Homo sapiens: one gene and its partner. The protein of the gene in region 1 interacts with the protein of each later gene in a pairwise test. Each region holds a gene or a part of one and is shown on either strand. Other genes may lie near its edges.

Region 1 (3,818 bases):
CACTTTATATAATTATTTCTAACCCTTATAACAGCCTATGGGAAAGGTGGTATCATCTTCATTTGCCCCTGAGGAAATGGAAGCTCAGAGTGGTGGTGACTTGCCAAAGGGTACTGCTAGTAAAGAGTGATGCTGAGAGCTGACCTCAAAGATCATGTGCATTTTTTTTCACCACCTAAAAAATGTGAGGCATATAAGGGCAATGAAAACAGGGTTGGTTAGCATTCTCAGCTCTTGTAGTCTCCACACCACTGAATACCATGGGAGGAAAATAAAGCTGGCAGGAGGAAAGTACATATGAAACTTCACGCTGGAAGGAAATTCTCTTTCTGTTCTGAAAAGTTTCTCTTTGATAGCATTTACAGAACATAACCTGCTCAGGACTCACCTGGGAAGTCCCTAGCTATTGTTCATGCGGCTGAGGGAATCCGCAGGCAAAGAGGAGATGCTCCAAGATGAACATGCAGCAGCAACTCCCATGAGTCACTAAATCCAGCACTGAGTCATAATAGATTTGAAATTTTATCAGCTAGATATGTCCTTTTATTAACATACCACTTTGAATAGGTTACATACTCAAGATTCAGAAATCAAAATGCTATTAAAAGACACATTAAAAAGTCTTGCTTCCATCCCTGTTCCCATCTGCCATGTTCCCCCATCAAGATAACCATTTTTAGTGTCACTCTAGTGTTTCTTTATTCAGATTCAAGCGAGTACACATATTCTCTCTTACCACATAAAAGCATCTTGCTTTATTCACTTATTATATTCCGAAGATCCTTTTATATCAGAACCTAAAGAACTTTTTCATATTTTTTATAGCTGCAGAGTAAATTTCAATAGTAAATGGTGTATTTAGCTCATTCCCAACTGATGAACACTTGAGCTGTTTCTAATCTTTTGCTGTTAGAAGCAATGCTGCATGAATAGCTTTGTTTGCATGCCTCTTGGAACAGGACACATATTATATTAGTACACATTTCTGGAAGTAGGAAAGTAGGACTTCTATTCTTCTGGGTCAAAGACTAATTGTATTTGTCATCTTAATAGATTTTGCCCATTTGCCTTCCATGGTACTTTTACCATTTTGTACCCCCGTTAGCTATTTTCCCCAGGTTCTCCAGCAGAACATGTAGCCAAACTTTTGGATTTTTTGGCATTCTGCTAGGTGAAGCAATGGTATTTCAGGGTTGTTTTTGTCTTTTTCATAAGTGAGGTTGAGCATCTTAGTTTTAAGTTTCTTTTGTATTTCCTTTCTCATGATGCCTGTTCATGCCCTTTGCCCCATTTTCTTTTGGTTGTTGGTCTTTTTCTCCTTGATTTCTCATAGTCTTCACATTAGTAAGTTTAGTCCTTTGTTCATGCTGTGAGTTTGACATATTTTTTTCAGAGTTTGTCATTTATTACATGACTTTGCTAATGTGTGTGCATTTTTCTTCAATTGTGCTGTGGCTTTTTTACTTTTTTTTTTTTTTCCCAAGACAGGATCTCACTCTGTCGCCCAGGCTGGAGTGCAGTGGTGCAATTTTGGCTCACTGCAACCTCTGCCTCCTGGGTTCAAGCAATTCTCCTGCCTCAGCCTCCTGAGTAGCTGGGATTACAGGCGCCCGCCACTACGTCCAGCTAATTTTTTGTATTTTTAGTAGAGACGGGGTTTCACCATGTTGGCCAGACTGGTCTTGAACTCCTGACCTTGTGATTTGCCTGCCTCAGCTTCCCAAAGTGCTGGGATTACAGGCATGAGCCACCGTGCCTGGCCTTTTTTTGTACTTTTATGTAGTCAAATTTAATACATTTTCTTTTAGGGCTTCTGGATTAGTAGTGTTCTTCAGAGGCATGCTAATACGCTATTGTAGAAACTCTGAGTACACGTACATGTTCAGTAAGCATAGCAAGTAAAATACCAGTTTCTACCATCATCGTGGTTTATCATAGCACTGTGTGCACTGATCATGTCTTGGGACAAGTTGAGTTTACCTGCACCTGTGACTATAGCAGCTTTCTATGAAGGCTGCCACTGAGGTGACCCCTGCCCATATCTCCTGGACCCCTCTGGCTTTCTCTTTTTCCATCTAGCGCACCTCAAAGGCTTTTCTCCCATCTCTAAGTGAGGCTCCCATCTCAAGGTATGGGGAGAGAAAGAACCCCCTTTAGACTGTGCTCCTGGAGCAGATGGCCAGGCAGTAAGACCCTGGACTGGTGCCTCAAACCTGACCCCCAGACTCCTTGTGCACATACAGGCCATACTTCCTTCTCTTCTTCACTGTAATACCCAAAGCTCAACTTCTGGCTTCTTGATTAGTGTAGTCTTCTCTCCTGCTACTCCTGAGGACACTAACATTTGCAAGGGGCTCTGGGGACTCCTCCACCCTGAGATGAGCTATGGCAAGTTAACTGATCCATTTAAGTGTGTCGGGGCAGCATTTTGTTCCATATTGTTCCTTAGTGTGCAGTCCACCAGCTATACCTATTTTTTACTTGTAATCCAATAATTTTTCTCTAAACTGAAACCATTATGAAAAGGAATAGACATTATTGTACTACCTAGTAAGAAGCTGGACTAGATTTCTAAAGCGGACATGCTGTCTATCCTATATAAATCCCGTGGCAGCTGCTTTCAGTGGTCTTTTGTGCCATCACCCAGTTGGGTGAGTGTGGGAGGCAGGGGAGTCATCTGGTCAATATTGAAGGGCATTTTGTATGGAAGGGTCCCTCCTCACATTCATCTGTATGCATCCTTCTTTTTTATTTATTTATTTATTTATTTATTTATTTATTTTTGAGATGGAGTCTTTCTCTGTTGCCCAGGCTAGAGTGCAGTGGTGCGGTCTCGGCTCACTGCAAGCTCCACCTCCCAGGTTCACGCCATTCTCCTGCCTCAGCCTCCCAAGTAGCTGGGACTACAGGCACCCACCACCATGCCCGGCTAATTATTGTATTTTTAGTAGAGATGGGGTTTCACCGTATTAGCCAGGATGGTCTCGATCTCCTGACCTTGTGATCCGCCTGCCTCAGTCTCCCAAAGTGCTGGGATTACAGGCGTGAGCCACCGCGCCCGGCCTGTATGCATCCTTCTTTAAAGATTGTCCTTTTGGATTCATTTTGTTTCATAAGGCTTCATCAATTTGTATTAAGACCATAACTTTCTCTTAAAAGGTTGTTTTGTTTCATTATAGTTTTATGAACAAAGAACAAACACAGCTTCTTCAAATTTTAGGAGAGTCTGCAAGCCATGAAAGCCATGAAAAAGTGTTGGGTTTTGGAATATTAATGGAGTTTTAGAGATCTGGTATATCAATCCTTTCCTAAAGTAATAAATAGGAAAAGTTAACTTTATCTTTAAATCACAGAATTATAACTTAAAGTTTTTATGTTACCTTTACAGAAAAAGATGCTATGGACGTATGGTGCAATGGTAAAAAATTGGAGACAGCGGTAAGTTGACTATTTGATGACTCTAAGTGCCATGTGTCTCAGTTACCATTGAATTGTTGCTGCATTTCCTAATTATAGAGATCTTATAATGAATCAAGGCCCTCTTGATAAAAACAAAAAAGGGATTAAGTACTCCTGACTTCAGATTCTGAAAACCTTTGCCAGATGGTGCCTGGTACCGTGAGTTTGGAAACAACTCATGTTCTTAGCTGGCACTAGCTTCATACTCTCCCTTTCCTGTCCTGGACCAGGCTCCAGCATAGCAAGTAAAATACCTAAAAAGAGCCCCTAGTTAAAAAATTATATCCCCAGAGGTTGGTGTCCTCTTGTGTTGATCCATTTGAAGTGGTGCGTTATCACTGCTTCTCAAACTTGCATGC
Region 2 (3,818 bases), on another chromosome or scaffold:
CCCCCACAGTGGGCCTGGGCTCCACATGGAGAAGCGAAGGAGTGGGAGGGAACCCTGCGGGGCAGCGGGCGGTCTCCTACCCAAGCCGGCCGTGTACCCATCACACTGCATTCGAGGAGCATTGCACACAGCAATCCTCATGTTCTAAGTGCTTCCTACCTCCCTTGTGGGAAATCTGAGAGAGGGGTTTGGGTACAGAACTACTCTCCCAGCTCAGCCAGAAGCCAAACTTCCATTCACCGTCTCCCGCAGATTTACAGTTTTCTCTATCCAAGGAGAAGACACCACTGAAAAACCATGGCAAAACCACGTGGTAACCTTCAGTTTACAGAACTTGAAGCAGAGGCTATTTCAGAAAGAAAGGATAATAAAGACGTTTATTTGCATTTGTCAATCAACTTAACATACAGCTGAGAAAGAAAGACTAAAAACCCTCTAATAAAGATTGTTAACTGACAGAAGCATTTTGTTTTTGTTTATTTTTTGAGACAGGGTCTCGCTCTGCCACCCAGGCTGGAGAGCAGTGGCGCGATCTCCACTCACTGCAACTGCCACTTTCTGGACTCAAGCAATCCTCCTGCCTCAGCCTCTCAAGTAGCTGGAACTAGATACACACAGCACTGCACCCGGCTAACGACAGAAGCATTCTTATGATACGATCTCCTCTCGGCTCACTTCATCTTAGTCCTGGAGGTCTGACTGTCTAGTTTCTTCTTCTTCAGAATTAATGTTTCCTGAAAAGAAAAGAGAAACATGAGTATATCTCATATTTACTTTGTTCTATTTTTAAAGCCTTTATTCACTAACAGATCTTTTGCCGAAAAAAATTATTGTAACTATTAAGCATTCATCAGTCAAAAATTGAATGTTAAATTTTATCTCATATGCACTTCAACAGTTTTTTCTTTTGGTACCCGACATAAAATAAGCAAAATACGTACTCAAAGTAAATGCTAAGACAAGACTATCCATGTAACATCAGTAATTCTCTTATGCCTGCACACCTGTCCAAAACAGCCAGCTTTGTGGCTAAAACATGTAATTGCTTGGCTATTAATTTAAAAGAAAAGCAGGCCGGGCGCAGTGGCTCATGCCTGTAATCCCAGCACTTTGGGAGGCCAAGGCAGGCGGATCACTTGAGGTCAGGAGTTCGAGACCAGCCCGGCCAACATGGTGAAACCCCGTCTCAACTAAAAATACAAAAATTAGCTGGGCATGGTGGTACATGCCTGTCAACCCAGTTACTTGGGAGGCTGAGGCAAGAGAATCGCTTGAACCCCGTGGCAGAGGTTTCAGTGAGCCGAGGTCACGCCATTGCACTTCAGCCTGAGCAACAGAGCAAGATTCCATCTTAAAAAAAAAAAAAAAAAAAGCAGAAATTTGCCACATTCTTATAAGACGCTATATTTAAATGTTTTGTGAAAGGTAGAGCTATTTTTTATTATTAATTAAACTCTATAACTTTCACTGTTGGGTATATTAAAGAAGAAATTAGCAGGGTAAATCTCCAATGTAATGTGGGATTCATGATGAATACATGCTGAACTTGCATTATTTTGATAAATGTTCTGCCGACTAAGCCTATTTTGTATTACTCCCTTTTCACTTAGGGCCCTCCTGACACTGTGGCCTGGGTGACCCTTTGCTGGGGGCTGTTCTGTGCCCTGCAGGGTATTCAGCACCGTCCCCGGCCTCCACCCAGGAAGATGCCAGCAGCACCTCCCTCACCAGCCTCCCAAGTCTCCAGACATTGCCAAATGTCCCCTGGAGCCCCAAAACCACTGAGTTAAGGGGGTGTTCCCTCTGTCCAAGGCTGGTGCATGAACCCACAGTCTCAGACGCCCGCTGGTACTGGGCATCGTCCACTCGGCCCCATCTCTCCCAGTCCGGTTTTCAGGATTCCTCCTGCTCCATCCCCTCCGTTATCTCCCCCACCAAGTTTCTGGGGCCTCCTGCCTTGCCTGGCTCCAGGGCACCCATCCTCATTGCCCCAGAGAAGCTCAGAGAGCAAGCCTGATACAGGCAATCCCCACAGCTCCCAGAGGTCCCGCCTACTGGGCTCAGGATCAAGTTCAAAGGCCATCTGGTTCCAAGGGAAAGGGGCCACCTCCCCACCCCCACACTCTTCTGCTGTCAGACTCTGCTCTCTGCCTGGAATTTCCTTCCTGGTTTCACCCATTCCTTGCCACCTCCCTCCCAGCTAACCCGGAGTTTCCTGGTCCTGCCCCAGGTGAGTCATCACCTCTCCTGGGTACATGGTAACACGTCCCTGTCACTGCAGGGAACTCACTGATTCCTTTATTCCAGCTTCCCATTAGGTGCTAGAGGGCGAGAGCCCAGCCCCTCACTCCCACACTGCCTATCAAACCCAGTGTCTCCCCCTCCAGCTGTGCTCCACAGTGACTAAGGACTGACATCTGTGGGCACAGCTAGATGCTGCTGTAACACTGTGCATACTCTAGCCACTCAGTCCTAACAGAATCCTGTGGACTCCCTACCTACCAGGGCTCACTCTATCCACCCTCCCTGTGCAAGTCAGAGAAGCAGAGACGATGCTCACTTGTAAAGCCAGGTTTCCACCTGACCCCACGTCCCACCTCAGCACTGCGTCACTGGGTGCATTGCTACAGCGCTCAGGGGAATTACCGATCACGAAAGTCTATGCCAGCGCTCAGGGGAATTACCGATCACGAAAGTCTATGTGTGCTTCAAGCATCTAAGAGAAAACTGCTTTATGTGATTTCATTATTTCAGGTATTATTTTCAAAGGAATGGGAAGTATATTCTTAATTTACAACAGAGACAAACTAAGTGGAATGGGACTGCAGACCCCGTGCCTGAGGCCGCCGTGCCCAGGCTGTTCCCAGATGGCCCTTTCCCTCACAAGCACGACACCCTCTTTCAGTCAGATGTGAAAAGTGCGTTAAGGGAAGCGAGTCCTCTCTCCAGACTTTCTGCAAGTGCCCACAAGCACTTGGGGAAAGATTTTTAAAGATTCCAGGAGCCTGAGGCTTCAGTCAGTCAGAACTGAGGTCAAATCCCTGCCCTATGAGCTGGCAGAGGCAGAAGTTTCTAGATTAATCTTACATCCAAACCCATTGAAAAAGAGCTAGTTCCCGACACCACTAGTCTGAAACCATACTCCTGTTAGTCAGCCCTGCTAAAAATCATGCAAATCCCAGCACTTTGGGAGGCCGAGGCGGGCCTCCTGTGTGAGGTCAGGAGTTTGAGACCAGTCTGTCCAACACGGTGAAACCCACCTCTACTAAAAATACAAAAAAATTAGCCGGGCATGGTGGCATGCACCTGTAATCCCAGCTACTTGGGATGCTGAGGCAGGGGAATTGCTTGAACCAGTGAGGTGGAGGTTGCAGTGAGCCAAGATCGCACCACTGTACTCCAGCCTGGGTGACATAGCAAGACTCCATCTCAAAAAAAAAAAAAAAATCATGCAACAGAAGAAAGCCAGGCTCTGCATGTCTGACAGGGCTCTCCAGCCTGGGGTCGGTCCTCCTGTGACAACGCGCATGGGCACCGCTGCACACCCAGGCCTCTCCCACTGCAGCCAGGCTTGCAGGAGGGCCTGCCAGGGAGCAACGTTCTGAGATGGCTCCAGTGAGCGCTCACAGGGGGCCCCCTAAGCCTTCCTCGAGTCCCTGGGGCCCAGCTGAAGGCAGGCCTTGGTGAAGGGAAGGGGAATCCCACTGTTCGTGGCCCCTAAGTGCGGGCCCTCGCCCCACTTCCCTGCGCAGGGACCTCACCCTCATCCATGTCATAGCGGAACTCCTCCTGGTCATACTCCCGGCTCTCTTCCCGGA

Evidence for each region.
Region 2: the proteins of FAIM (region 1) and RSPH1 interact in a two-hybrid assay, tested with the Homo sapiens proteins (one large-scale study listed by BioGRID and IntAct).

The regions. Positions count from the first base shown.
Region 1 is NC_000003.12:138,625,719-138,629,536, forward strand, and holds part of FAIM (fas apoptotic inhibitory molecule 1), read left to right. Parts: intron 1-3,388; coding exon 3,389-3,438; intron 3,439-3,818. UniProt on the Homo sapiens protein: Plays a role as an inducible effector molecule that mediates Fas resistance produced by surface Ig engagement in B cells.
Region 2 is NC_000021.9:42,472,137-42,475,954, forward strand, and holds the end of RSPH1 (radial spoke head 1 homolog), read right to left. Parts: coding exon 3,762-3,818; intron 735-3,761; coding exon 682-734; 3' UTR 350-681; downstream 1-349.